Regions from separate parts of the Homo sapiens genome. Here all the other regions are linked to region 2. Evidence: fine-mapped expression QTL. A gene starts in region 2. Each other region holds a variant in brackets. All regions are shown on one strand. Distances are between the middles of the regions. Region 1 overlaps CEMIP (cell migration inducing hyaluronidase 1). Region 2 holds the start of CEMIP (cell migration inducing hyaluronidase 1). Region 3 overlaps CEMIP (cell migration inducing hyaluronidase 1).

The links. PIP is the estimated chance that this variant, and not a neighbour inherited with it, causes the effect.
Region 1: its variant is fine-mapped to the expression of CEMIP in cerebellar hemisphere (GTEx, PIP above 0.99).
Region 3: its variant is fine-mapped to the expression of CEMIP in lymphoblastoid cells (GTEx, PIP above 0.99).

Annotation. Positions count from the first base shown.
Region 1 is chr15:80,886,981-80,897,071 of GRCh38, reverse strand. CEMIP (cell migration inducing hyaluronidase 1) reads right to left here. Exons shown (of 30, transcript NM_001293298.2): 8 at 9,308-9,378; 9 at 8,276-8,371; 10 at 7,480-7,601; 11 at 1,950-2,082; 12 at 1,012-1,203. Among named protein-coding and RNA genes, the nearest start is that of MIR549A, 50 kb to the right of the region's middle. The variant C/T (reference allele first, on the strand shown) is at 4,892.
Region 2 is chr15:80,774,319-80,784,409 of GRCh38, reverse strand. CEMIP (cell migration inducing hyaluronidase 1) reads right to left here and starts at 5,040. Exons shown (of 30, transcript NM_001293298.2): 1 at 4,796-5,040. RefSeq lists an enhancer at 4,013-4,518 and a silencer at 5,139-5,418.
Region 3 is chr15:80,939,726-80,949,816 of GRCh38, reverse strand. CEMIP (cell migration inducing hyaluronidase 1) reads right to left here. Exons shown (of 30, transcript NM_001293298.2): 26 at 7,764-7,968; 27 at 7,480-7,566; 28 at 6,715-6,872; 29 at 2,752-2,852; 30 at 1-1,020. The coding sequence ends at 893. It also overlaps a transcript of MESD not described here. Among named protein-coding and RNA genes, the nearest start is that of MESD, 45 kb to the left of the region's middle. The variant A/C (reference allele first, on the strand shown) is at 5,425.

The DNA.
Region 1 (10,091 bases), 110 kb before region 2:
ATGCAGTCTTAGAAGAACTTTCAATGACTGTTCCTGCCTTTCCTAGCCAAAGGGTGAGCACACAAGCCACCAGCCCAAGCAGATGCTCTCTCCCTGGAAGGTGACTTTTGAGCACTATGTCCCATGGCCTAAGCATGGTTCTTAAAGATGATGCCTTAAGGATACAGTCCATTAGTTCCTGCTACCCAGATCCCAGAAGCTACCCTGTTCCCTGTCCTTTTGGAGGTTAGTTATTCAGCTTATCCTTTAGTTCTCCAAGTTGAATAGCCTCTCAATAAATTCCTGTTTTGCTTAAGATAGTCAAGTTGGATTCTGTTGCTAACAGCCAAAGAACTCTAATTGATACATAACTCCCCCTACTAAGAATAATTGACCTGGATTATATTTGAAGTCTCTTTTTACCTTCAACAATCTGTGATTCCAGTAACCTCCAATAACATAAATTACAGGACATCTAAATCAAGATTTAGGAGAAGAAAAAGAAAAACCCCAAACTCACAGATACAAGAGATTAAAAATTTTGTAGTAGATTGAATAACTGTCTAACAAATATTCACTTCCTCCCCCTCAAACTTGGTGACAGACATATGCTTCCCTAGCCTATTTGTGTTGTGCTTTACCATGTGACTTACTTTAGCCAATGGAATGTGTGAGAATGTGCCATCTTTGAGCCTAGGCCTTAAGAGTTCTGTGTTTCTGCTCACCACTAGGAGTTTGCAATCTCCCCCGTGAGAAGAATATGTTTTGGGAAGAATGGGAGTCATATGGAAGTGACTTGAACCCAACTCTCAGCCTGGAGTCAGGCTCAGTCTAGAGAAGCTGATCCCTAGACAACCTGCAGATACATGAGTAAGAAATAAAGACCTGTCATGAAGTTTTAAGATTTTTTTTGTTATGCAGCATTATTACAGCCATAGCTGACTGATACAGATTTGTTGTAACTTCAGTTTACTTTAAGCCTAACAATTTTCAGATTCATCCAGTCTAGGAAGGGATTAGTAAAAGTCCTACCTGCCACTTTGACCTGGTTGGGGGCGCAGGATCTGCAGGGAAGCACCTGGAACTCTTCTGCCTGGTACATGGAGTAATCAGTACTGGCAATGACCAGGGTATCTCCAGGTTTCCATGACTGTACATTATCCTCCAAGTTCAGAATGGTGCTGTTCACATTGGTGTCAATGGTGACTGTGAGTTTGGGCCTCACTGTAACCCAAAACAGGAAAGACTGAGATAGAGCCCTTTGCTCTTGGCAAACTTTTGGCTACCTCTTTTTTCCCTTCCCCTCCCTAAATAACTAAATGCCAGGTTTGCCTATCCAAAACCCAGATCACTGGCTTGCTCCATCCCACTCTTGGTAAAGGTTTTTGAAGTCAACAAAAACCCTACCAGAAAAGAGCCATTCATTAGCTCTGGGCGGGGGAATTTTCCACTAACTTCTTAGCTGGAGTTAAATGTGGCTGCCTCACCCCACCCACTTTGCTCAAGATGTAAAACAAATATAGTTCCTCTCAACTATTATTTTCGGTAGCCATAAACTTCTCCCCCTAAACTTTCATTCCTAATGACTGCCTTCTGGAGATGGCCAAGTGCCTCCGAGAACAACCCGACCATTTCCAATCTCTTCTAACAAGCACCTTAGGTACTGGATTTAAAATAATAGCACCCAAAGAGGCAAAGAACTGCACATCTCTGCAGGGGAGGGCAGCTCTGTCCATTTGTACCTTGACTGCCTTGGACCAGGCCCTTCCCCTTCCTGAAAGGCTTATGGGCAGGGTGGGGTTCTGCTGTCTCCTGCCAACTCCAAGGATCCTCCCACTGCTCCCGTGTCACAAAAGTGCTCTCCTTTGGGAGCACTGTCTCACTGAGAGGTCTGGAAGTTGCCTGCATAGCTGCCAGTTCAAGGAACCGAGCCATAGTTGCATCTGTGTCCCCGACAAGGGGCTGCTTACCAGGCTTCCCACAGAGGAACCGTACACGGTAGCTCCGGCAGGCTCTGCCCCGGTCGTAGCAAGCAAACCTATAATCCTGGCCTTTTTTGTAGACAACCTCGGTGCTGAGGTTAACTCCATCCATTGTAGTGGCCTGGGAATGACACAGAAATTACAGAGCAAAGTCGTTTTTTTTTTATAGAGAAGGAAGGTGCTGATTAATGTTCTAAACATATACTCAGAAGTCTAAAATTGTCCCTGCTGCAACACTATTTACAACGGCCCGAGATGATTATCCCAATGATTGCCCCCATCAGTTTTGTTATGAGAAAGACAGCCTAAAGTCTTGGAATAGATAAATGCCTGGCCTGAGGTCCTACAGTACTCAGTATCGAAACCAGTGATCTACTGCTTATGGCTGGGTGAACATTTTACGGAGCATTTACAATAAGTAGCCACTCTTCTAGGATCTGGGCTGGCCACTTTTTACAATTTGCACCACCACTACCAGCACCATGAACAGCGGCCAACAGTCCAAACATGGTTCTGCATCCCATGGGGAGGAGTCTTTAAAAAATACTCATGCCCAGTCCCCATCCTCGGAGCCTCAGATTTGATTGTGTCTGGGGTGCAGCATGGACATCTGGACTTTGAAAAGTTGTCCAGGTGATTCTAATGGGCAAGAAAGTTTGAGAACCACTAAAGCTAGATGTTTACCTATATTATCTCATTTCATCTTCATAGCAAAACTATGAGGCTGCTGTTAGTTTTACAGATAAGGAAACTCATCCTCAGAGAGGTTCAGTTACTTACCCAGGATCACAAAGCCAGTAGGTGGCAGAGCTAAAACTTGAACCCAGACTTATGTAACTACATCACAACACTTCTAAGCCCCATCCACTCTTGCCCTAAGGTGGAAGCCGCCTAATGTCTTTTGTTCAAATGTCTGCCTCCTCCCACCGCATGGTGGGCTCTGGGTGGGCAAGGAGCTGGTTTTTGCCCCCTTGTCCCCAGCATTCAGCCCAGGGCCTGGCACAGAGTGAGGTCTCAGTGGATGAGGGCTGGCTGGTGAGCAGCTACAAGGCCAGGTGGAGAATTTAGGGAGCAGGCCTCCAGGGAGGGCATGATCCCTGCCAGCTGGGGCCCATCCCAGAGCCAGGGTGTGTCTGCATCCTGACCATGACTATCATTCAAAGACATGCAATTTAGAGCAAGGGCTGCAGCTGCTGTCATCTTTGGCATAGAGACCAAAGGGACCAGACTGGGGTAATAAGGAAGGAAAGTATAGCCAGTCAAAAAAAAAAAAAAAGAGGAGACTTTTTAGGAAACATTGTTTTAAACCCAGCAGCTCCGTTATCTTTGGCTTGGAAGAAGAGCCATGTGGATGTGAGTTCAGCCACAATTAAAACTCAGTCATTTCCTGCAAAAACACACTCACACCCCCTATCTCAGGTGGTCTCTGCAGCAGCCAGAGAGGCAGGGGTTGCAAACTTGCTTTTAGACGGAGGTCAACGCTGATGCTCAGAGGGGTTCAGATGTAAGCTCAAGGTCAGTTAAGGTAAGCCCAGCTCCTCGGGCCTCCTGAAGTTTTCCCCTGAGGGTAGCATGTTCTTCAATTGGAGACCCCGTAAGATTGAGAACTGAGCCTGAAAACATTATCGAAGGGGGCTGGAGATTTTTTCCAGGTATAACATCCAACAATAATTCCAGGAGAACATCTACTCAATTCTGCTGTTTTTTCTTTTTTTCCTTTTTTCTAACCTGAAAAATGACCTCAGTTTTGGATAAGAAGAGTAAAAGGAATCCATCATCATTCAGAGAAAGAGATCTTTAAGTAGACTTGAGTTTATTATTATTCTTGGTAATAATAAGTATTAACAAAATAATTATCAATATAATAACTAATAGTAAATTTATTTTATTTTATTTCATTTCATTTCATTTCATTTATTTATTTATTTTGAGACAGAGCCTCACTCTCTTGCCCAGGCTGGAGTACAATGGCGCCACCTCAGCTCACTGCAACCTCCACCTGTTCAAGCGATTCTTCTGCCTCAGCCTCCCGAGTAGCTGGGATTACAGGTGCCCGCCACCACACCCAGCTAATTTTTGTATTTTTAGTAGAGATAGGGTTTCATCAGCTTGGCCAGGCTGGTCTCGAACTCCTAACTTCAATTGATCCACCCACTTTGGCCTCCCAAAGTGCTGGGATTACCGGCGTGGGCCACCAGTCCAGCCAATAAATTAATTTTAAATAATAAAAAATGTATGGGCCACTTTTCAGTCTGCACACTTCATTGCACTGAATCCACAAAACATGCCCATGAGGAAATAATTATTATCCCTATTTTTGCTGTGAGGAAACGAGACACTAAGTAACAAGACTGTGAGTGAGGTACCCAGGGCACAAAATTTAAGGCAGCACCCACTCTTAGGGTCATGCAAGTGCAGAGTTGGCGCTGGAGGGAGCGGGCTGCCTTAAATTTTGCACCGTGGGCACCTCACTTGCTGATATGCCAAAGCTCACAAGTGGTAGAGCTGTGATCTCTCTGGCTTCAGAATATGTTTTTGTTACCATCAGGCCGACCTCTAGCCACTGCACCAGCTGCTGTGGGGAACACACAGACTGCCTGATGTCCCCAAGGAAATCTCAGTCCAGTAGATCCCACTGGCCTTGAAGGGTGGCTGGGTTTTAAGAGAGAAGGTGGGAGGCAAGAGGATTTTTCAGCCAAGGAGAGCTGAACGAAGGGCAAGACATAGAAACAGTGTGTTTTTGTTATTATAATTTTTTTCAGAATCACAAAATATCAGATCTTGGAAAAGCTTTTCTTAAGGTCAACTGTGCAGTCTTGCTGCTTCCTCTTTCTTCCCAACCTGCCTCCTCCAATCTTGCCTAGGTTGCAAATGTCCTTGACACTCCCTGGCCCAGAGGATCTGGCTATGTCAGTGCATGGCAGGTATGC[C/T]GGGACCCACTGTGTATGACACGGAGTTGGGCACTGGGGGCAGGCACAAGCAGGAAGAGGAGCACGTAAAAGCTCAGGGCCCGGGGAGGTGAGAGGCACCAGGTGACCAGAGAAAAACTGCATTTTTGCAATAGTGGCAAAAATGAGCATGTGGGGAGTTGTGTTTCATTTTAGTCTCTCCCTGGGTTAATTAACTAGGACATTTAACTTTTGGCTGATGCATTTGTCACCTGCTAAAAATGGGGAAATCCTGCTTCTCTCACCTCTTGTGAGCATAGGAAAGACTGGCTTTGTTTTTCTGGCCTTGGAAACATCCAGGAGCATATTCTACATCACCATTTTTACCTTTGATGAGCATGAAGAGATGCTCTAGCTAAGTCTGGAGATGACCATTGATTAAAGATTGGTGGCGAGAATTAGGAGTAAGCCTGATCTCTCCAGCGTGGCAACACCTTCTCTTCGGTAGAGATGGAGGTTTGAATTCACCCTTGGAGGCACATGACTCTTATCTTTTAGATGACCATCTCAATAGACCTTGGTTTTGCCAAGAAAAAGCCAAAGGTCTTATTATGGAATTGGGAGTTCTGAATGCTTTCATTGTGGGAAGACTTCCCTAAGCTTCTGAGTAAGGGGACCACACTGCTGTTGAATCTTCTGTTCTCTGAACCTCAAATAATGGAGAACTTGAATTTGGGGAATGTATTGCCAAGGGAACTCTTTTTGTTAGAAGAAAACTAGGTCTTGCAATATGGCAACAGACTAACAGTTATAGAGTGTAGGGTTGGGTCCCTATGAAGGTCTTGGCTTATGGAGCTCTCAGCCTGGGTTTAATTGTGTTTTGGGACACTCTAGGAAGGGCCTGTGTCTGTGCTGGGAGCAAAGTAAATGCAAGAGTGGGGAATGTCTAAGGAATGCTGTTTTCCTGGCACTGAGAGGTGGTCTTCCAATCAACAGTGTCTGGAGCCAGAAAACTGGCAGAGCAAACACCAGGAAAGATTTGTAGACCATGTAAGCATTCCTTGAGCATTTCCAGAAGTATTTGGAGAGGGGAGGTTGGTAAAGAGCTAGACTTCCTGTGGTCAAGTGAACTGGAGGGATAAGATTATGGCTATTTCAGAATTAAAGCTGGAACATTCAAGGTTATGAGAGAAAATTAAAATTAAATCTGGAAAGAATGTGCTGTGGGGGATCAGTGCTTTTTGATTCTGTTGGACCCAAGGAGAATCTGCAACTTGAAACTTAATCTGGGTAAATCCTTCTCAATAACACTGAAGCCATGTGAAGGGAAGAGTCTCAGCCAAATAATGAGAAAGTTTTCCTCAGACTTTGCTAAGTGCAGAACAGAGGCTCCTCCCTTGGATAAGTGGTCCTTCTTACAAGGCAAGACAGAGGGTAGAAGTTCTGCCCAGGATGGTGTGGCGGGGTGAAAGCACAGACAGATGGCCTGGGACTCGAGCTGACCTGGGACCCGAGCTTTGATATTCTAGGAAAAAGTGTTGTACAAATGGGGTAGCTATTTTTATTGGCTGAAGGAGGATAAAATGGGTGGAGATGGCCTTTCTCAAATGCCTGGTTTTTTTTTGTTTTTTTTTTTGAGTCAGAGTCTTGCTCGGTCACCCAGGCTGGAGTACAGTGGTGCGATCTCAGCTCACCACAACCTCCACCTCCTGTTTACGCAATTCTCCTGCCTCAGACCCTGAGTAGCTGGGACTACAGGCACCCGCCACCACACCAAGCTAATTTTTTTTTTTTTTTTGTATTTTTAGTCGAGAGGGGGTTTCACCATACTGGCCAGGCTGGTCTCTAACTCCTGACCTCAAGTGATCTGCCCACCTTGGCCTCCCAAAGTGCTGGGATTACAGGCATGATCCACTGAGCCCAGCTCAAATGACTTCTAATTCTCTATCAAGCATTTAAGCAGCCTCAAATCTTGTCTTGGAATGAGACTGGGCATAAGGAGATAAATCTCATTTACTTTGCCTATTTCTCCTGTCTCTCCTGTTGTTCCCAAAGCCTAGTATCCCACTGGCTCAGCTGGTGAGGCCTGTATATTTACTCAACACTTTCTTGATGGAGCCAACTGAGAACATCAAGGTCCCCTTCAGATGGAATTAACTCTAAGTGAAGATTTTGAGCAAACACTGTCCATTCTATGAATGCTGGCTTTGATTTAGCTCAATTGAGAACAAGGCCATGCGTGTGTTCTCCATCTGGGCTGGCCTGGCCTGCACCCCAAATCCTAGCTGCATCCTGTGCACTCAAGGTCCCTAAGGAAATTGACGGGGAAGTGAGGCTGGGGAGTCCAAACCCATCCCTGTGGTGGGGGCACACTCAGTCATGGCTGAAGAAGCAAGTTAAAGAGAAGGAACTCAGAAGCTGGACCCAGGAGAGAATCTGAGCCCTGGCTTTTGGGCAGATAGTAAGCCTCTGCTTCAGTCTCTAAAGTGGGAATGGTACTCTTTGGCTGACCTACCTCACAGGAGGGCAACGAGAATCACAGCACCCAAGTGACAAGAATGTCTGTGATCTATAGAGTCTTCTTCAAAACAACACATTTCTATTTTCTATTTTTGCTGTGAGTTTGGTACCTGTATATCAATGGGACGATTGCATATTTTTCCTGGGTGAGCTTTCCAGAGGTCTGAAATTTTCTCCCCACCTTTAGTCTGAGATACTTTATCATGATCGAACCACTCCGTCCACTCCACGTCTAGGCAGAAAGCAAACAGCACAGTCAGACAGGAGGTTGTCTGTGAGGGCAAGTCACACTCAGTGTTGTCTCCAAGCATCCTCAGCACCATGGGAACTGAATATTATCTGTCCATGGTTGCACCAGGCTGGGGCATGGATGGCTCTAATCAATCTGCCTATGCTCCCATGTTTTAATTAAAAAATGAGTTTCTCTTAATGAGTTTCTTACTTTTATAAAAGCAATTTATATTCTTTGTTATTGCAAAAGCAAATTAAAGAGAAAAGAAAGAAAATCCATCTGTAAACCCGTTATCCAAGGACTGCAACTAGGATTGCTGCTTTCTGCAATCCCTGCATGTGGGCTATTTGGAGGGCAGGTTCTATTCCTATCTGCATTTCCTGTTCAGTGCCATTGCCTGCCACATCAAAGATATTCCGTGAACTAAGCTGAATGCCGCAGACCCTGACTGAGGTGAAATTGAAATCTTAGCCAGAGGAGAACATCCTTCTGGGCTATGGGCTAAAGTGGCTTGTCTAATTAAAGACAACTTTTGGTTGCACATTTTTAGTTGATTCTGCAAAAATTAAAGTGGTCCTACTGGTATAAGAGATAAATCCTAGTTCTGCAAAGACAGTGATTTCTGGTCTTCTATCCCACTGTTAGGTGTCACCAAATTGTCTGAAACTCCTCACCTTGAACCCACTCACTGGACAAAGAAACATTGAAATATTCGCCATGCTCTGTCTGGAACAATTTGAATACCCGGGCAGCAGCAGAGCCTCGATGTCCTGTCAGAGAAACGAGACCCTTTAGGAGCTGGACAGACCCCCAAATTCAAAAAGTTGTGACTCCAAGGCAAGGAAACCCCCCTACGCACATGGGCATTGACTCATTTCTTTAAAAATATTTTTTAAGTAAATAAAAGAAAATTAGGACATTCATTCACTTGGGAAGAGATGATCATCCATTCTTTTGTTTCAGTTTTGAAAGTTTAGTTCCAGCCTCCCAACAAATTCAGATTGCAGAGCTCTAGCATGTCTCACGGTCTGAATTCCTCCTTGGCATTAGAACTGCAGCGCTTCCCGCAGCCTTTGCTGGGCAAAGGAGGCTACTACTGTGTCCTGAAGGCCCATCTAAAGTGTCGCTTTAGCTCTTTTTTTTTAAATTTTTTTGAGACGGGGTCTCTGTTGCTCAGGCTGGAGTGCAGTGGTGCAATCTCCTCCCAAGTAGCTGGGACTACAGGTGCCCACCACCATGCCTGGCTAATTCTTTTTTTTTTTGTAATTTTAGTAGAGACACGGTTTTACCATATTGGCCAGGGTGGTTTCGAACTCCTGACCTCAAGTGATCCACCCGCCTCGGCCTCCCAAAATGCTGGGATTACAAGCGTGAGCCACCACACCCAGCCTCGTTTTAGCTCTTAAAATACCACCCCTGCTGGCTCTATCTCAGTTCTTATCTTTTCTATGCCAATTCTAGGTTTTTGATTAAGTCAGTGAAGATTTCCATGAAAAGGGAAATATTACTGCAAGTGATGGGCCTTTGGCCAGCATTGGCCTTTGCCACTTCCATGTAAGGTGGCCAGTTAAGCGGCTGCTCACTCATCTAGACATTGGGAGCTGGGAAGCCATGCTCTGAGAAAAGTGAGATGTTCAGAAAAGCCCTGCACCTCTTGATCAGAGAGACACTGGAGGGAATCAGGCCTCCAGCCAGCTATGTATTACCATGATATTCAATATGGTCTTCCACTGAAGATGATGGATTTCCTTTCACAGTTAGAAAACTCCAAGGGTGTCTGAAAAAAAGAAAAACATAACAAAAAGTAAAGTTCTGCACGAGTCTGTACCTGCACAGAGTGTGGGGGGATGGGGCAGAGTTGAAGCAGCGTCAGGTGAAGGAGGGTCCCTCCCTGCTGTTTGGGGGAAATTCATTCACTTGCTGGGCTTCTCTTCTCCAGAAGAAGCACCTTTCTTTGCAAGCACTCCTCTGGGCTTTCTCGCTCCCTGGCCTGCCTGATGTTTGCTCCCTGTGAGCCTCTTCAGCTCCATTCTGGCAGAAGATGGGAGCATGAATCACAAATAAACAAACAAGCCAACAGACCTACTATACCACCCGCCAGGCTCAATTATGTCCTGAAGCAAATGCTTGGATACCTTCAGGAAAACATGTTCCAAGAGAGAAAGGTTATTTCTCTCATGCTCAGCTCCCCTAGAGTTGAGCTCGAGGAAAATACCAGAGGCTAACATGACTGACTGCCCTAGCCATCTGCCTTGGGCCGTGGAAAGGAGAGAAATCTCTCTTCTTCTTAATGGGGAGGGAAGCAAAAAAAGGCTTAAGGTTTTGAAAAATTGTACATCCATCATTCCTCCATGAAAGCACGTGCTGCTTTAGGGCAGCAAGGTTTTCTTACCCCATTTTGTTTTAGGCATTTTGCGTAATGCCTAATGCAGTAATGAAGTTCAGGAGACGCTACCCCCCAAAATGGCAACTTGGCATATTGAATATTTC
Region 2 (10,091 bases):
GAGTGCAGCAGGCTCCTGGGGAAGCCTGTGGCCCTCCCTCCTCCGTGTGATGTCTAAAAACAGGTAAGACAGCAATCTGGCATGGACACCTTCCATGCCAGAACAACTATCTAGATATGCTTTCTCCGTAACAGAAAATGTCTAATGGTGCAGCTCTCCTACTGACAGGAGAGAAAGAAATTCACAGGGCTTTCAAAGACCTGGTCTTCAAAGGTTTTCAAAGTCTGGGCAAAGCACTTTAAACTGAAGTTGCATCTAAACCCCTGATATGACTGCCCTTCCAGAAGACTCAAAGATATCCCAGTGCAAGGAGCCAGGCTGTCCAGCTCCTTGCTCTGAGCAGGTGCCTGTGCAAGGAAGGCCTGACTGCTTGTGCTCCCCAGGGCTCACTCACCTGCAGGGGTGGGGAGGCAAGGATGGATTCAGATTCCTGGAGCCAAGCTGAGTCTAGGGACAGGCCCTAAAAAATAACAGGGGCAGAGAGGAGTAGCAGCTCCTCTCCCTCTGGGTGGCCATGTGTGTTTCCTAACACCAAGGGAACTAAGCAGACAGCAAATGTATATTTGATGACATTTCTCTGCAAGCAGCCTCCGTTCTGAAGAACCAAGCTTGAACAAAGCCTGGTGCCAGGGCACAGAGAAGAAAAAGAAGGACTAGGGGCCTGCCAGAGAGGATAAGATGGCCCCTGAAGAAAGTAGCTAAAGCAAAGAGGTGCAGATATTAATAAAAGTCACCATGACAGTCACCATCCTACTCAAATTAGCAAAGTTTCTACATGCCAGACTTTAGGGAAAGGAGGTTCAGGCCCAGCTGAATAGCTTGCAAAACAGTAGAAAGGAACCCAGCACTGAGAAGTCTCCCCCAGTACCCACTGCCACTTCCAGCCTCCTGCCAACCCAACCAGATACAAGAGAGTAAGAATGTGATCCTTTCCTATTCACTGTTCAAAGGAAACTGAAACTGCCTCCAGATAATGGTAAAAAACAAGCAGTGAGAGATAGCTGATGCTTTACCCTGATAAGATCAAACACCTGGGTATGTGCCATCATGTAGAAAGAGATGTGTAGTCCAGACTTTTCAAAGATATGCTATCTTGTGGATGCAACTCACAAATACAACTTTGTTCCCATTTAGGAACCCAACCTACATGTTTGCATTTCTCTTTTGAGCTATAACTGCAAATGCAAATTGCATTTAATCCATCAAATTGTGATGCTTTGCCGATACCACAGAAGGTACTAAAAAGAGGTCACTTAAGCAGCAGGCTTCAAAGGAGGCTGATGAGAATAATTGAATTCACCCCTTTCACTCTGCTGGCCTTCCCCACTGAATGCCACTCTTGCCATTTGCTCTGTCTGTCCTGAGGACTCAGATACTGTTGCAATAGGCAGAATGCCACAGGACTGATGAAGAGCTCGTTTCTACCACTTTACATGACAGTTCCTCCCCTCATTGGCCTTCACTCCAAGAGTGTCCTGTAGTTCAATAGTTTTCTTACCAGAAAGCCATGGGTATGCTGGAAACTGGAATCTGCATGGGAGTCCACAGAAGACAGCCAGGAATTCAAGGTCATCCAAGGCCCCATGTCCTCCTGCTCTGTTCATGTCACCAGCAGTCTCATAGAAAGATTCTGAGCATCTGTAGCATGTATTCTTCAGCTCCAATCCTTTTAGACGGAAGAAGCTAAGATTCCTTCTGAGCTATTAAGAGCAGAAGGAGGAGAAGAATAAAAATCTAAGAGCACCAGAATGTAAAACTGACAGGGATAAAAACACTCACATGCACGCACACACACACACTTTTGTGGGGGGAGAAAACTCTAACTGGAAGACTGGGTACTATACAATTCCATTCTCCAAACTTCTGTGGTGTGTCATGTATTAGTGATGTCTACCAGACAGAACCCTGAAATGCAGAGCTGGAAGGGACCCTCCAGTCCAGCTGGGATCAAATAAGTGCTCACTGCTCTGGGCAGAGCAAGTATCTTGGTCAGAATCTCACACCTAAGCAAGGCTCAAGCATGAAGTAAGGTGCTTCCTGCTTGGCAATGACCACTCAGTGAACCCCTGGGCAAAGTTCCACTCCATAAAGCTAACCCCTACTTCATCCTGGAGTGATCTAGAAACCAGGCCTTAGAGGCCACTCTCCATCAATACCCAAGAGTACTTCACTTGCAGAAAGACAACAAAGCCACTTAGAAGACCTTGCATTCTTGTGAGAGAACAATCAGGAAAAATTGATCATCTGAACCAGAGGGCTGTGAGAGTATTTTGAAAACAACTTACTTTTATCTTTCCTCCAAGTAGTGTAGGTAGGGGAAAACAGTTGACCGATTTTTATCACATAAAAGTTCTTCCATTTGTCTTTAAATAAGAATTTTTTTTTCATTGTGATCAACTCCAGCATTTTCATCAATTCCATCAACAAGTTCTCGGATGCAAAAATAAAGTGAAGATGGAGTCCCTATCAAACAGTTACTAGGTTAAGAGAGAGGGCAAAGGGATGGTGAACATAATTCAAAAGAAATGCACAACTGTCTTTAAAATATACCTGTAATTGCTACCATTTAAAACGATTTCTCTATGCTCAGCACTGGATTAAATGCTTTACATTGTACCAATTACTGTAATTCTCATAGCAACCCTGCAAGATGGCATTGCGTTATTCCCAGTTTACATATCAGCAAACAGGCACAAAACATTTGAGCAACTTTCCCAAAGTCACAGATGCTGTCTCAAAATTTTTTTTTATAAGAGGTGTTTACTTGTTTTTACTCTCCGTCGGCCTTTGTCAGTCACACACAAAAAAAGCAGACCTGCGTTTCTTGTAATTTTAAAATAAAGGAAGATACACACTTCAGTATGGGTGGAAATGACAAAAAGAGCCCCATCCAGTGTCGTTTCTTACCAGAGAAGGGAGATCTTTAATTTGGTGCACAGATTAAACCCTACAGGTTTTTCCACCCTGTTTCAAGTGACCAACTTGAAAAGTCATCTACTGGGCTAAAAAGGAGCCTTTGGAAATTGCTTTAAGAAAGTCATGGGCTTTGAACAAAACTATTAGGATCAGAAAACCGCATAGTTGCTTTTGCAAATGCATCCGATTGCCTTCTCTATAAATTTGCTCTATTTGATTTCTTCTCCATTCTATCATTAATCGTAAAACTAATATATCCTCCCAATCCCATATGTACTAAATAAATAATTTAATTTGATGGAACACATGAACTTGTGCCCTACACAGAAAACAGTTTGAGCTGGATCCCTAATTATGTCTGGCGTAATTGTATCTGGCATTATCTCACTGCCTGGGTCGGATTCTCAGGGGCCATACTTTCCTAACAGCTCTGAGGGGTCTCCGTGGTGTCATAGAAAAGCCAGAGAACCACAGAGTGCCCCCGGGAGGTCCTGCAGAACTGCCGGCTCAGCTAGGACCTGGTCACAAACCACAGACTCCTGAGGGCTGGGCTGCCTCCTGAGTGGTAATACCGAGGGCCCCAGCGGACTCTCAGTCCCTTTCCTCTTTCCCAGCGCCCCAACGCCTTGGGTCTGGGAAGAAAGCGCACGACTTCCCCGGAGACCCAGGGCCACAGACCCCGAGTGGAGGAAGTGGCTGGGAGCTGTCCATGGTGGCGTCGCGCCTGGGCACGCAGAGCCGCCGGCTCCCCGCCCTCGGGCGCGCCCTGGATCACTTTCCAGACCGCAGGGATGGAGAGACGCGCTCCCCGGCTCACCGTCCCTGGTATGGGGCTGCAGCCAGGCACTGGCTCACACATCAGAAGATTAGTTTTTAAAGGGAGCTCTCACCTGTGGGTAGCGTTGGCTGCTTGGAGAAGGACTCAGGACCTCAAACCCGGCAGCTGGCGGAACTCCTGGGACTGCCGTAGCGTCCGACCCTTGGGGAACAGCGGCTGTCGCAGAGAGTGTCTGCGGCTGAGGACCCAGGGCGCACAGCGCTCCTCTCTCATGAGCACACGCATCCCTTGGGGTCCATTCCAGAATGTCACTGGCCTTCGTTCCCAGAGCGGCGAGCTGGAGACCTGGCCAGCGTTCTGCCAGGACTCTCTGCCTTTCCTCACAACCTAACGCGACCTTTCTTGGAGCCGACGTCCTTTGCCAGGGACCACCAGACCTTCTTCCAGCGATGCCACGTTTGGAGTCTCAGTCTAAACATCAGCAGAGCCCCCCGGGTTCATCTAACATTGCAATTGCCTCAGCTCGGCCCCGCGCCAGCGCGTCGCTGGGTGCCTAGCGCTGTCCCGGAGGCACTGGGAGGCGAGGGAAACTGGGAGGAAGAGCGTGCTGAGGCAGGAGCAGCAGGGCGCAGACCTGTTGCTAGGCGCACGCCCGCTAGAGCTCGGCGTGAGCTGGCTCCCAGTCGGCAGGACACCGAGACCTGACCCTTGTGGTACTCCCTCCTCGGCGAGACACTCTCCCGGGCGCAAGCCCCCGGTGCCATTCAGAAGGGGGAAAATCTACGGAAAGCAGGAGTCTGCCCCCTCTGGATGCCCTCTGGGGACTCCAGCGCCCCCCGGCACCTGCAGCTTGTAAAGCATCACAAGATCTCAGAGAAATCCCACAGAGGACAGTGCCAAGAGCGTGTGCCCATCAACAGACGCATGGACAAACAGACAGATAGAGGTAGACTGCACAGCACAGGGTGGACAGACAAACAGAAACTGAGGCGGGTAACGTTTACCCTGTGCCGGGTGGAGGCGCGGGCCCCCACTTCTTACCTCTCTTCCGTGGCATGGGCCGTCAGCTCATCCCTGACGCCCCCAGCCAGGCCCTCTTACCTCTGGGTCTGTAGCCGAGACAGTGTCACGCCTCGCGGGCCAGGAGCGCAGCGGCCCCGGACGTCTGGTCGCTGACCGCCAGGCGCCGCGAGCTCCCGGGGCGTGGGCAAGCGGAGTGGTAGCTAGTCTGGGAAATCTGGGTTCAGACCCTGGCCGCGCTCAGCCCCGCTGGCTCCCCGCGCCGCTTGCGCTCGCCAGGCTCTGTCCGATAGCACCGCGCTGGGCTCTGCTTGAGCGCTAGCTCCCCGGCCCTCAGCCGAGAGGCCGCTTTTATAGCCACTTTTACTGACTCCTCCCCCGAGGAGCCCCTGACGCCCGCGCGGCACCGAAGCTCCCTCCCTCGCCCCCCGATGAAACTTCCCTCCACGCGCCCCCGCCTTGCCCAAGTGGGGCGGGGGCCCTGTGCCCGGGCCGGACCGGGGCGGGCTCTGGCGGCGGCTCTGGGAGACGCAGACCTGAGCCCGCGGAGCCCGGGTGCGCAGAGTCCCGCCCGCAGCAGCCAGGTGAGGGCGCTGGAGGCCAGGACTCGGTGGAGCGGCCGCGGCGGACCGCGGAGAGCAAGTCCCCGGGCCTCCAAGGAGCCAGGGTCGCCCGTGCCCCGCTCGCGCCCCGGGGCGCCCTCCGAGGCAAAGAGGCAGTGGAGGACAGGAGAAAAGGTCTGCGCCTGCCACAGAATCGCCGCGAGTCGGGGTCCCAGGCTAAGTCTCAGGATCTCTTTTTAACTCAGCAGCAAAAGAGTAGCCCGAGAAAGAGATTTTGGTATTGGCCTAGCAGTTAATCCGAGAGGAAGATGCTTGGGTGTTCACTGAAAGGCACCTTGGTTTGAAACTGGATTCAGACATGCCAGTTACAACTGTGTACAGGATCTTAACCCCTCCCAGTCTCAGTTTCCTCATCAGGAAAATGGGTTCTGTGATGCTTCCTCACTAGAATGGTGAGGCTTAAATGAGATCAGGAAAGTCCAAGTTCTAAGCACATAATAGGTGCTTGGTAAGTTAGAAACATTCCCTGTGGGTAGGAGGGCTCTGTGCCTCTTTAACTGGACAGGCCAAAGTTCTGAAGGGTCAAAGCAAGAAGGTGCGGCTGGTCTAGACATTCCCTCGCGGGAGGAAACAGTACCAGTAGGAAAAGTTCATCACAACACATCCCTAGGGCATATGGAGTCTCCTCTCAACTCTGCCGCTAACCTACTGTGTGACCAGGGCCAGCTACTTCCCCTGTCTGAGCCTCAGGGTGGTTTTTTTGCAGGGAGGTGAGGAGTGTTTGTTTTTCTTGTTTTGTTTTAATCTGTAAAATGAGGGCGTTGATACCTGCTCTCTGCCTCTTCCACCTTTCAGAGTGTGACTCAGCCCCCTTTCCTGGTTAGCAGAGGCCTCCTAGAATATACATTTCTTTCTTCCTTCCTGCCAGTGTTCTCTGAGAACCAGCTCCTCAGGCAAGGTCTCCATTCTGTGTAGTACACACTAGCTCCGGGACTCTAGGTCTGGACTTTAAGGCCAGGCTGTGGTCGGCAGAAGCTGTGGAAGTCTGTGATCACATCTGGGCTGAAGCAGAAGCCTTTGTCACCTGGTTAAACTGGGAAGTCCTGCAATCCACCTCTAGGCCTCTTCCAGAAAGCGGAACTTGATCCTTACTGGGGGTGGTGGTCAGGATTCTCAGCCCTTCTTTGATTTATTGGGAAGTAATGAACTGGATCCAATGGCAAGCCCTCCTCCCCAACCTTTTCTTTCCAGCCGAATAAAATGGAGCCCCCCCGACCCAGGGCCCCTCTCCCCAGTCCTCACCATGATTCCTGTTTATGTTTTTCTTCCTTAAGGAGCTCCCAGAAACCAGACCCACAAAGAGTTGTGTGTTAGGGGTTTGGGGGTGCTGGGCATTTGGCCCAAATGGAGAAAGGTCGACCTTGAATCAGCCTGGCTTGGCACGACATGCAGGATTTTCCATCAACAGACAGTAGATTTGAGGCCTGAGTGGAGCCAGGTAGCTCTCTGGTGAGGGGCTGGCTCCACAGCCATCTGGGAGATGAAGTGGTAAAGGCAGGGTCCTGTCTAGGGATGGGCCCTGAGAAGTGCTTGGCTATGTTTTCTCAAAGCACTGAAATGCCCAGCACATTCCTCTGGTATCCAGTTTTCTTTATCACAGACCAATGCCCAGGGGAAAAGAGCAGTGCTGATGAATTACAAACAGGCTCCGAATGTCTAAAACCAGATTCTCCAGCCAGTTCTCCATTCAGCACTGCCATTCAGCACTCAGTGATGAACGGGGCGTGCCGCGTAATTCTTTATGGATAAATATAGCAACATGACACTGGTGGATTTACTGCCCACACTTTCGCAATCCATTGTCTTGCTCTTATAAATGCAGAGACAGGAAAGAGCTGGTCAAGAAAGGCTGTGTTAGTTTTCTGATTCTTGCCGAAATCTCCCAGCAGAGAGTCTCCAGAGAGAAGGGAAACGCCCATCAATGGTGTGACCTGCCACCCAGAAAGCCTGCCCTTCCTCCATTCTTTGCATTTGCCTCCAACCCACCTTCCTCAGGTGGGATGCAGCCCCCTCAGCTACATCCTTGTGCAGTAGATTGGCCTGCCTGCTCACTGTTGCCTCAAGCTGCCCAAGTCTGGCATCCTCAGTCTGCTGACAGGATGCCACATCTGTTCCCTAAAACAAGGGCCTCCACACTCCACCTGCTGATCAGCAAAGACAGCACCTGACCCTACAGCAGCCTGCCTTATTACAGTTTAAAAGGTTGGCCACACCTGTGGCTCCATACGCCAAGCCTCCAGACCCAGTTGTCCAGGAAAACCTGGAGTAGACGGGTGGAGGACAAGGAGAAAAGGGAAGCAGGATGTAGTTAGGGTAGTGTGTGAGTGGGCTGTGGGCCTCAAGGTTTCCAGCAGACCCACAAAAAATTAAAACTGAATTGGGCATCTCCACCCTTGGAGAAGCAGCTCACGAATAATGAGCATACTTAAGTCCCACCAACAGGGGTCGCCCTTAGACACTGGGCCTGAAGCTGGCATCAGAAAAGGGAAATTCCCAGGCCTGGATCCGGAGGCCAGATTTCCAGCTCTCAGAGCTGTTGATTCCTGTCTTGTTGGACACAGAAGAGGCTGCCCAGCTGAAGAGAGACATGTCCTCAGCTTTTCTGGTGAGTGAAGGCCTGTGCTGGAACTTATGACAGCAAATCCCAGCTCTGAAAGTGGATTTCTATATCTTCCTCTTCAAACTCACCGTCACTCTAGAGAAAGAACTCTTCTTTCCTGTGTTTTATTTATGTCTAAAACATAGGTAAACGGTGTATGTATGATGTCTTCTTCTTATTTATTTCCTTTTGTTCTAATTGCAAAAAATCACACATGTTCCCTGTAAAAAAATCAACCAACCAACCAACCTTGAAAAACTTAAACAATGAACAAAGAGAAAAGAAATTACCTAACATCAAACATAATGTGTATACATTACAAAAGCTTGAAAAATACAGAAAAACACAAAGGAAAGAAAAAAAAATCACTTCCACTCAAAAATTATTTCTGTTAATTTCAGTATATAGCCAAGCATTTTTCCATGTATAAGTTACATATATAGTTTCACAAATAGATAAATGTATGTAAGTGTTCCATAAATCTTCAATAGCTAGCTCAAAATTATTCTCTTCCATCAGATTGCATGTTCTGAGAGGGCAAGGGCTGTGTCTCTCAAGTTTACCCATCTACCCTGTAGTAGCTCCTATAGTGGCCAACATGAAGTCCACGTGTAGTCCACCGTCAATGAATGAATACACGAATGAGCATTTCCTATAAAGATAACATACATGCGATGGAAAAGGAGACCCAAGTAGTTTACAAACATTTGAAAAGATGCTCAACTTAACACATAAATGAAGAAATACAAATTAATACTAGGCCGAAATACCTGTCAGGCTGGCAAAAATCCAAAAGTTTGACCCTACCTCTGCTGCGGAGGAGGCCAGTAAGGGTGGAGAATCAACCTTTGCATACATCACTGATGAAAACTTACGTTGGTACAACTTGGGAGGGCAGTTTGACAAGATTTATGAAAATATACATAATGTTTGACTCAGCAATTCCAGGAATTTATCTTACAGCTATAATGTGTGAAACAAATAGCACCAGGTTATACACTGTAGCCCTATTTTTAATAGTAAAACAACAACAACAACAACAAACTAGCCTAAGTGCCCAGTAGTAGGGCTAATTAAATAGTGTTGCATCTATATGATGGAGTATTATACAGCTGTTTAAAAGCTGAATAGAATTCTTTTTTTTGAGACGGAGTCTCACTCTGTCGCTGTGGCTGGAGTGTGGTGGTGCCAACTCAGCTCACTGCAACCTCCGCCTCCTGGGTTGAAGTGATTCTCCTGCCTCAGCCTCTGGAGTAGCTGGAACTGTAGTCGTGCGCCACCACACCCAGCTAATTTTTGTATTTTTAGTAGAGATGGGGTTTCACCGTGTTGGCCAGGCTGGTCTCGAACTCCTGACCTCAAGTGATCTGTCCACCTTGGCCTCCCAAAGTGCTGGGATTACAGGCGTGAGCCACTGTGCCTGGCCAGGAATAGGGTAAATTTTATATAGTAAAATAAAAAACTAAAGCATAGAGCAATGTATATATGATACATTTGCACACTACCACTTGTGCAAAAGGGAAGGGGCGGAAAAATACTCTGTATTTGCAATTATTTATGGATGCATAGGAAATTATCTAGAATGACACACAAGAAACAAATAATATGGTTTCCTGTTTGGCAATTGATAGTTCTGGTGAGGGCTGGGAAGATGGAAGAGGGGTGGGATGTCAACTTTTCCTTATGTGCTTTTTTGTAATTTTTTTCTCTTTGAACTAAGTGAATTATTACCTAGTCAAAAATTTAAAACCGGGTGTGGTGGCCAGAGCCTGTAGCCCCAGCTACTCAGGAAGCTGTGGCAGAAAAATCATTCAAGGTTGTGGTGTACTGTGATCAGGGCTGTAAATAGCCACTGCACTCCAGCCTGAGCAACACAGACCCTGTCTGTCTCTAAAAAAAAAAGGAAAACATAAATAATTTTTAAATGACAAAATTATATATAATAATAAGCCTGTTTTTTCAACTAATAATATATCAAACACATTTCCCTGCATTTTAAATCTCTTTCTAAAAATTTTTTAAAACTTTTATTCATTTTTTAGCATTTTTAATAAATTTGTTTATTTCTTTGTTTTTAAATTTTAATCTATTTATTTATTTATATATTTTGAAACCAGGCTATGAGACTGGCTAATTTTTGTATTTTTGGAAGAGA
Region 3 (10,091 bases), 170 kb before region 2:
CAAGAAGCCTTCCTGAGCCTCCCCTCTGAAATGGCACTGGCCTCCATTTTACCTCTCTGTGATTTCTCCACCTGGCATTGCAGTGCACATGGACCTGACTGCCTGCCCTACTGGACTGCAGACCCCTCAAGCTAGGCATTAGTTCTCACCTCTCCATCCCGTGTGCGCTGGGGCACCCAGCATCATGGATATCAGTGGATATCCATGAACTGTTGGGTTCCAGGTACCATGTGAAATGCAGCAGATTTCTGGAATCTCAGAACTAAAAGGGCCTTTGAGAGTCATCTAGTCCAAGTCCAAACCTGCCACTCAAAGTCTCCTGAAAGGTGGACACGGCCAGAGGCAGGGCTTGCCTCTTCCCCAAGGATAGCCAGTTCTACCCCAGCTCCTAATCCTGTGAGGTTGGCTCTTGCTTACAGGAGTAAAGATTTCCTTAAGGCCAAGGCTCTTTCTCCTACATTTACCACCCTCACTTGTCTGCTGAAGACCATGGGGATCTGTGAATGACCAGCCCTCCAGACTACCTCCTAGCTGGGTCAGGGCTCCTGCCAAAGTGGATCTTTGCTGTCAGCACAACCCAGGTCTCCTGATATGGTCCCCAAACCCCCACTGAAGAGGCACAGATAGGAGAGAAGCACCCAAGAGGCTGCAGGAAAGTGAATGTTTCCAGCATTGGCCAGCACCGCCCCAGGGGCTCCAGGTAGACACTTGAGTAGGGGCAGGTGGCAGCACCAGGGTCTCTGATAGCCTTCCCTTGGCCCATCAGGGCTGAAACACGGCCTTCCCAGGCAGCTGCTGGCAGGGGCTGGGGGACCCAGCCATCCCCCACTGGTCTGCTGCCAAGAGTCACCGTCATAGTCTACCACGAGGTGGCACCGGGCGGCAGCTGTCCTCACAACTTCTTCTTCTTCACCACAGGGATGGGCACAACTTGGAAGATTTTGGCTTTGTGATCCTCAGTGTCCAGTGTCACCCAGATGGGCCGGAAGCTGCCTTTGAAGCCAACGAATGCCATTTGCTCTGAAAAGCAATGATGAGTCTCCTGAGCAAAAGCCCTATGAGAGGACGGCTGCCCCACCCCGTTCCATGGCTCCCCATCGCCAGCCCCCCACGCCCACCAGGTACCGCCTAGCCACACTGCACTGTGGCCCCTTGGGAAGAGCTCTGTGCTCAGCTACTGATGGTGCCTGACATGTGTTTGTATGGGGCAGGCAGGGTCTCACCTGAGCCTCACTGCCACCTAGGCAGGGTGATGGCTTTGTTGTAGACAGGGGAGCCATGCACAGCAGGAAATGGGGCAAACTGTAAGGGAGGAGACCTCCTAGGAACCTGCCTACCTTTGAGCTGCCCCTAGGACAACCAGCAAGTCCCTGCCCCTCTCTGAAGCCCAGTGTTCCCATCCATCAAATGATGGCATTGATCTACAAGATCTCCTTCCCCACTCTATCACTCTGTGGCTCTAGAAAGAGTTCTGAGAGGTGAAGAAATTTGACCAAGAGTGTGGAGTAAATGGTGCACCCCAGATTAGAACTCTAAACCCCTGAAACCCACACAGCACTCTCCATCTTGCAGTTCACAGCTTGAGCATCCGAGGGGCATGGGAATCCACGTCTATACTCAGCCCATCTTGGCAGGCAACATGCATTTATCACCACCGGGAAAGTGCCATTCAACTTAGGTCACCTTACATACATCAGCTTTTGGCAACCGGGATCTTAATTTAAAAGACAGAGGCTCCAAAATGATTTCAGGACTGGGCTGGAAAGGATACTTCTCTTTTCCTTATGTCCTCCTTTGGCTGGTTTGAAGGGTTTGCATTGCTTCTGATTTTTCTCATTGCCCCATATGATGGGTTTCTGATTTTGATGTTTTCCATAGTGAGGATGGTGTATAACTAAGAAGCCCAGCTTTGAGTTAGGAAGATTAGGATCCAAGTCCTAACCTTAAGCAAGTGGCTTGGCTGTTAAATTCTTGGTGTCCTCATCTTAAATGGAAATAATAGTACCTGCTGCACAGGTTATTAATGAGTAAGTGAGATAATTATAACATGTTGTGCAAAGTGCAAGGCTGAACATTGAATAGCAACCACAATGATCATTATCATTATTGCCCGTGGAGCTTCTCTGCCGCCCATACAGCCTCTCTGAGGACTCTCCCTGCACCTAGTTTTTGTGATGATAATGGGTGTCATGCTGACATGTCCCTCCTGGATGGCTTCTTCCAGCACAGCCAGCAAGCCTGTGCTAGGCTTCACCACCGAAGCTGCCTGGCCTTGGACAAGCCATGTAGGTTCTCTGGGCTTTAGTTTTCTGGAACAAATAAGAGTTTTGCAAGCTGCAAAGGACTGTACAAACGCTAGGCATCAGCTAGAATGTTGAAGAAGATGCAGGACCCCTGGCCAGTCTGAATAGCAGGAATTGGGTAGGAGGGTGAGACTAAGCCACTTTTCTTATGATACTTTTGTTGAATAAAGGGCCACTTTCCAAGCAAATGAGTCAACAAATATAGCAATTTTCTTTCAGTGGCTGGTGGCAAGTTATAATAAATTTGCTGCAGTGCAGGGGTGGTAAACAGGTGGCATCTTGCCCATCCATTCCAGTAGACCACTAGTTGTGTGGGGGATTCTTAGGTTGTACCCACGTTTAGTACAAAGCATGTTCTCAACTCAGCAAAAGATGACAGCACCCTCCATGCCAGGCATTTGCCTTCTCTGGTTTTGGGGTCAGTTTAAACCCCAGTTCAAACCCTTACCTTTCAACTTGAGACCCCTGTCTGCCCCAAGCTTTTCCAGCACTCTGGTCCATGGGCCTCTGGAGACGTATCTTCCCTTTGATGCCATAAGCACTATGGAACTGTGTGAGAAGAAACCAATTAGACCAGAGGGAGAGAGCAAACTGGAGAAAGTGGGCATGGGGAGGGATGTTGGTTTGTGCATGGTGGGACTGGAGTTAGCAGTGCCCAGAGGCCTGTCCAGGGATTCGGGAAAGGGCAGCCTCTCCTGTGTTCTGAGCTGACGGGCTCTTTCCATGTGGTGACGAACATCCTGAGCTCCCTCCCACACATCTGGCCACAGTTGGTGCCCACAGCCTTCTCCAAGCCTGGACTTGGCTCACCGCGTTTACATGTCTCTCTCCAAACAGAGGAGAGGATGTAAGCAGAGCGTACCATGCCAGGGCTCGGCACACAGTAGGACTTCGATATGTATCTCTTCCCTTGAATGTTCTCAACCCTGGTTAGGTAAGACCAGATAGAAATGTGGTGATGGAGGAAGGAAGGAGAAAGGGAAGAGAAAGAGAGGAGGTGCGGGAAGGCGGAGGGGAGCATCTGTCAAATCATAAAACCATCCAGGAGCTCCTGAAGGTTCTAGATCCTGAAGGTTCTAGAGACCAGCTCCATTTGGCATCCCCTGGGATTTCATTAGAACCACAGAATTCCTCCATTGCAGACTTCCTGAATCAGAATCTGCATTTTTACAAGATCTGCAGGTGATCATGTATACATTAAAGCTCGAGAAGCCCCATGCTAGAAGATTTCTCTTGGAGCGCATCTTTCTTTTGCTGTCTTCTTTTGATGGACACAGGCTTAGTGTAGTCCAGAGCCAGCCTTCTCTGAGCTGCAGGAAGAGCATGGCCAGGTTTGAAGTCTTTCTGGGAGAACACCATGTCGTTACCATGATGCTCGGGTTGTACCAAGAGCTCAGATTGACCTCTTACGTTCACGTCACCTCTCTCTGGTTAGGCAACACAGGGCTATTGCCTCTATTTTGCAAATGGGGAGATTGAAGCAAATAGTTACCAAGTATCTCAGAGGACCTACCAAAGGGAAATGTGCTTGAAAGACACAGAGGTTTGGAGCAATGTGTGCACCCAGCCTGAAGGTCCCAAATTGCAAAAGTTCGACTTGGGAATAAGGAGTGTCTATCCCCTGCCTCGGGGTGTATTCAGTCCAAAGTGCTGGGAAAATAGCCTTCACAGTGGCAGACTCAGCACACTGGGCCAGATAGGAGGAAGTGAGCACCTCCCTTGGGAATAGAAATGGGGCAGAAGCTCAATGGGGCGTCCAGTTTGTATCTCAAAGGAACTCTGTAACCACAGACCACAGTCCAGACATGGAAAAACTGTATAGGATTCTGGAACCTGTTGTTACCCCCATTTGTGTCCCACTGGGAACAGCGGGAAAGATCTTAAGATGCGAAGGGCTTGTGTGAAATAAGGATAGATGGGAAGGGAGCTGGGGCTGCCTCAGGCCCTTGAGGAAGGCTGGAGAGGGAGGCCCAAAGGGTTGGTAGGGTGAGGCCCCTTAAGGAGACAGGTCTCATTGCTAACACATCCTCCACTCTAGATTCAGGATCTGTTCTCAGGAGGATATTTCTGCATTGTTTCATTTCAGAACAAAAGCTAATGGTCCTTTGTTGGAGCTCAGCCTTCCTACTTGGGGGACTCAAATGTAGGTCTTGCCCTCCTGATGGGGATCTAAGTTAGCTCACAGGAGCGGGACAGAGAGATGGGCTTCTTGTGTCCCCACCCCTTCCCACTGATGCCCAGAAGCCTGCCTACCTATGTTGGGAACACTTCTTTGCCTGGTGTGCCATCCTCATGGCCTATAAGCCCATGCCCCAGCCAGCACAGTCTCCCACAGAGTGGCAGTGCAGAGGCAGCTCCCAGAAGCCATGCTAGATGTTTCTGGTGTGAGCAGCTGCCCTCTTCTCTCCCCAGGACCCTGGGGCCAGTAGTGGCCTGCTGGATGGGGTAGGAAGCATGGGCCAGGCTAGGCAGGGCCCGCAGCCACAGTAGAACAGGATCTACCTTGCCTCATTCCCTGCTGCTTTCCAGGAGGTTAGAGAGGGGTCTAGTGGTACCAATGCCTGCCTGGGTGCCCAGCGCCAGCCCAGGGAGTGGCCCATTCCAGTAAGGGCTTCCCCCAGAGAGGTGCTGCTGCTCGGGCTGGTGGGAGCCTTGCACATGGTTCCAAACAGAGTAGCACTGCAGTCTAGTTTCTTATTCCAAGCTTCTGCATCATCTTTCATTTCAAAAGAAAATTCTCTGCCCAAAACGTCATGATCTCTAGAGGATAACTATTTTTCCCAATTTGGTCAACCTTGTCCTCTGTCTGAATCTGCATATGAAAAATAGAATGCCGAAGAAGCATCTGATGGGGGAATGAGGGAGGGAGTAAATGTGGTTAAGCAAAATCCCATTATCCAAAATCTCGCCAGGTGCCCAGTTCACGTCGTGCCCCTCATGGAGTCAGCATCTGGGAAGTACATTTGCTTTCATTTAATAACTATTAATGTTTACTAAGCACCTACTATGTAGCAGGTACCACATGAAGCGCTTAGACTTTCCACCAGGTTGTGGCTCCTGAGTGAACTGTACACTCACTTAACTAGCCATGTTCTGTGCTAGAAATGCAAAGGGAAGTTAG[A/C]CATGGCCCCAACATTGAGAAGGCCACACTCTTGATGGGGCAACAGATGTGTCCACCAGACCTATTGTGAGTAGTGCTTTAGCAGAGGTAGAACTTTTATTTTTTATTTTTTTGAGACGGAGTCTTGCTGTGTCACCCAGGCTGGAGTGCAGCTGCGCAATCTCGGCTCACTGCAACGTCCGCCTCCTGGGTTCAAGCGATTCTCCTGCCTCAGCCTCCTGAGTAGCTGGGACTACAGGTGTGCACCACCACACCCAGCTAATTTTTTTGTACTTTTAGTAGAGATGGGGTTTCACCATATTGGCCAGGCTGATGTCAAACTCCTGACCTCATGATCCACCCACCTCGGCCTCCCAAAGTGCTGAAATTACAGGTGTGAGCCAATGCGCCCTGCCAAGGTAGAACTTTTGGGTTGGATCGGAAAAGACCTCACCGAGGAGGCGATGTGGGGAGACTTGTAAGGTACTGGGGAATTACCAAAGTTTGCTAAGGAGAGGGGACACAGGTTTTCCCTACATTTAAGAAGTTTAAACCAGCGGCCAATATGGAAGATGGGTTGGAGTTGGGGCAACTGGAAGAGGGAGGCCCGTTAGGAGACTGTGCCAACAGTGTTGGTGATGAACAGCAAAGGCCGGGGCAGAGTGGCAGAAGAGAGGACGCTGTGGAGGGAACCAGCAGGCGAGCAGTACTGCAGGCAGAATTGATAGGGTGTGATGATAGCATGTGGAGGAAAGAAAGAGGAGACAAACAGAATGCCCAGATTCTGGCCTGGCTATCAGGATGAATTGTGATGATTTCATCAAAACTGAAGAAGTAGGATGAGTGGCTGGTTTGGGAGGTTAAACATTTTAAAAGGCTGAGAATTCAGTTCCATACAAGATGTCCAGGTGGCGTTGTCCAAGTAGCAGTTGGACTGGAATGTCTGGTGCTTAGGAAGGAGATCCGGGCTGGAGATAGTAGCCACCAGCACTTGGATCGTATTGAAGGTGTGGGAGGGGATGAGATCATGCTGGGAGTGTAGTGAAGAGGGCCAGGGCAACCTTCCCATGTGCAGCGGGGCTGTCCCGCCTGCCTCCGCCTGACCTACATTCACAGCAGCCCAGCTCCAACACCAGAGTCCACAGGCAAGGACGCTCTTGTCCAACACCCATGATTTGTGGGCAGGCTGTGGAGACTGCCTGAGCTTTTCCAGACTGATCTGTGATGAGGGCCTTTGTGAGAGGGAGGGGGCCCTTGCCCAGGGGTCTGCTGTGCCAGCAGCCAATTCCAGAAGCAGAGGTACAGACTCACTTGTCAGGGATGGTCGCCACATAGTTGAAAAGCTGCCATGGTATGCCTTGCAGAATGGAGTTCCTGAAGCTCGTGTGGCTCACCACGCGCCCTTGGTTCCCGTCAATCACCACCACCTGGATGCCATCCTCCGAACTGGGGTACTTCTTCCCATCCACCTACAGAGCCAGAGCAATCCAGGTGTGAGGCAGGGTGCCAAGGCCCCATGGTTCTCCTGCCCAGGTGGTTCCCAAGCAGACCCTGAAGGCAGAAGTTGCCTATGCATCTATTTGAAGCGTAAACTCCATTATCCACTTAACTCCTCGTAGCCCTCAGTAGTGGGTCAAATAGTGGCCCTGCAAAAGTTATGTCCACCCGGAACCTGTGAAAGTGGGCTTATGTGAAAATAGAATCTTTGCAGACGGAATTAAGTTAAAAGATTTTTTGATTAAACCTTCTGGATTTTTAGGGTGGGCCCTAAATTCAAAGATAGGTGCCTTTGCAAAAGAAAGGCAGGAGGAGAGGTGAGACGCAGACACTCAGGAGAAAAGCCCACATAAAGACAGAGATTAATGTGTCTGCAAGCTGAGGAATGCTCAGGAGTGCTGGCAGCCACCAGGAGCGAGAAGAGGCATGGAACAGGTTCCCCGCCCCAAGCCCCCTGGAGGAAACCACCCCTGCCAACACCTTGCTCCCAGTTTGCAGTAATTTGTGCCAGCAGCCGCAGGACACAGTATCACCTCTCAATGAGCAAACCCGAATCCTCCAGGGGCCAGAGGCACTTACTTCAATGTAAGCGAAGTCGTTCCAGAGGTGGAAGAAGTGCTGCTTGGAACTCTCCATCTTCACCTCCAAGAAATGGTCCTTTGTTTTCTGGAAAACACATAGAACCCAATGTAATTGTTAGGTTTGGGTAGTCATTCCCCTCCTCTTCCCGTATCCCCAGTCACAGGAAATGGTTTATGGAGCTGAGTGAGGGACCTAATTGGGTCTGGGCCCGACTGGACGGCAAAGGGCTCTAGGCCCGACTGGACGGCAAAGGGGTCTAGGCTTTGCTCTCAGCCACTCACCAGCTGAGAACCAAAGAGCTTCTTGGGCATCGGCACGTCTACGACAGCCCTCTCGGTGAACTTGGGGTAAGCTGTGGCTGTGCAGTCACTGACGCCTGCGTTCTTTGGAATCAGAGCTTTAATCTTTATCCTCTCACAGCCTTTCATGGAGCAGAAAGCAAACTTCTCTCTCTCGTTCTGAGCTTTCAGCTTCAGGAACAACAGCCTGCACACAAGGAGCATTGCTGGGCATTTGCTTGGACACTCAAACCTCCCTCTTCTCCTCCCACCCACCGAGACATTTACTCTGAGCTGGTCATAGCAGGTAGACCCAGCGGCCTTATAGAATGGAACCATGTCTACCACCGAGTTGCATGTAGTTGGAGAAATAAGGAACAAATGCATTGAAGAAAAAGCTAATGAGAATGGCAATTCTATTCTGAGCACGTTCTATGTGCCACGCCGTGCACACATCGTAAATCGACATATCTCATTTAATCCTCAAACAATCCTGTCCAGTAGGTACTATTATCATCCTGAATTCCTGGATGGGAAAATGGTGGCTCAGAGAAGTGAAGTGACTCGCCCAGGACCACACAGCTGGGAAGTGACAAAGCCAGCATTTTCCATCCCAGCATTGTGCCCGGTGAGGAGATGCTCTGTCTTCCTATCTCTAGTTTTCTCCAAACCATAATTTATTCCAAAAATTATTTATAATTTATTTAAAATAATAATTATTATTGTAAAGGAAGCTGACCCAGTGTTACAGGGAGTCAGATTATGAGGAAAACACAGTACTAACTTGGGATTCATTATTGTTCTTTTAGTGCAGAAAAGCGCTTTCAGGCTGAGTCCTGCATCTGAAACATGGGAAGATAGGATATGGGGTATCTACCACCCATCTTGCTCTGGGGACCAACCCTTCACTGAGTCCAGTCAGACTAGGGAGCTGGGTTTGCACCACAATGCCCTCGCCCCCAAACCCCTACCACACAGCTGCTCAGACCAGGGGCACACATTGGACTCACAGAGGGGCCATGGATTGGCCAACCAGTAACCAAGATTCTCGCTCTTATGGGACCCAGCAGGTCTTGTCCACCACCGGGTGGTGCTTGAACTAAAAGACCACATGGAGTTGGGGCTGACAACCTTGTTGTGCCCCATGCCTGCTAAGGAATCGCGAGAGGAAGGCAGTTTGCAGCAAGTAGCTGAAACAAGAGGCCATGCGTGTGTGCGTATGTGTGTGAACATGGGGAGATGGAGAGACACAAGGGGTAGGCAGGCTACCTCCTCCCTGCTGTCTTGGTTGCTGTCAGCACCTGAGCCCATGAGGCCCAGCTGGGTTTTTATTTCTTGAAGACCCCTTGGTCTTCTCTCTGTAGCACCTCCACTTAATCTGAGCTTCCTTGAGAGGCTTTATGTTTCAAGCCATCCACATCAAGTGATCTCAGAGTAAAGTAGAAACTGACTGTTACAGAGGCCTCGTGCTCAGGGCTGAGAGCAGAGCAGCCATATCTGCATTCCATGCCCTGCGTGGTGGGGAAGCTGGGGAGGCAGGTGAGCACCCGCTTTGAGCAGCTTAGGAGGAAGGCAGTTCAGTGCTGCCCATGGTCACGTCTCCCTGGAGGCTCCCAACATGCTCCAAACCACTCCTGGGACCAAGCACAGAAATGGGATTGGTCCTGAGGCTTCTGCACAAAACTTAACAGTATTCAGGTTTCCTTGTTGCCATTATATATCAGATTATCTAAACTGGGAGTGACCTAAAAGACCATCCAGCCCATGGTAGGTAGCAGCTGCCTTCCCTAATCCTGACCTACAACTTGGATGTGTGCAAGCTGGCTGAACTGCAAAGCCCTGGAAGGCATGAAAGGAGCACGGGCCTGGGCATCTGCCAGCCCAGTGCTCAAATCCTGGCTATGACCAAGTAATGTTGCAGAGCAGCGCTACTGATGGCTGTGCACCTTAAATAATGTACTTGTTTATAATTTAGTAAGAATCATTATAAGAATTCACTGAGGTGGTATTAAGCAAACTTAGCTATCCAGAACACAGCTACAATCACTTAACAGTTTTTTTAACCTGGAAAAAATGAGAGATGATTCAGAGCTTATATATTTCACACTTTGAAATCCCCTCCCTTTTAGCTGACTTATTTTAATTTTACCCCTAATTATAGCAAGCTGGTTGTTAAGTATCCTAGCCCATAGTAGATTATTAGAAGGTAGCTGCTAAAGGCAGGTGCTCTGAGTATAAGAAACAACAAACGTATAAGGCAGAAAGATTTTTAAAAGCCCAAGAGTTTGCAGCCCTTCTCCATAGGAAACAGACCCCCTATAACCCAACTCC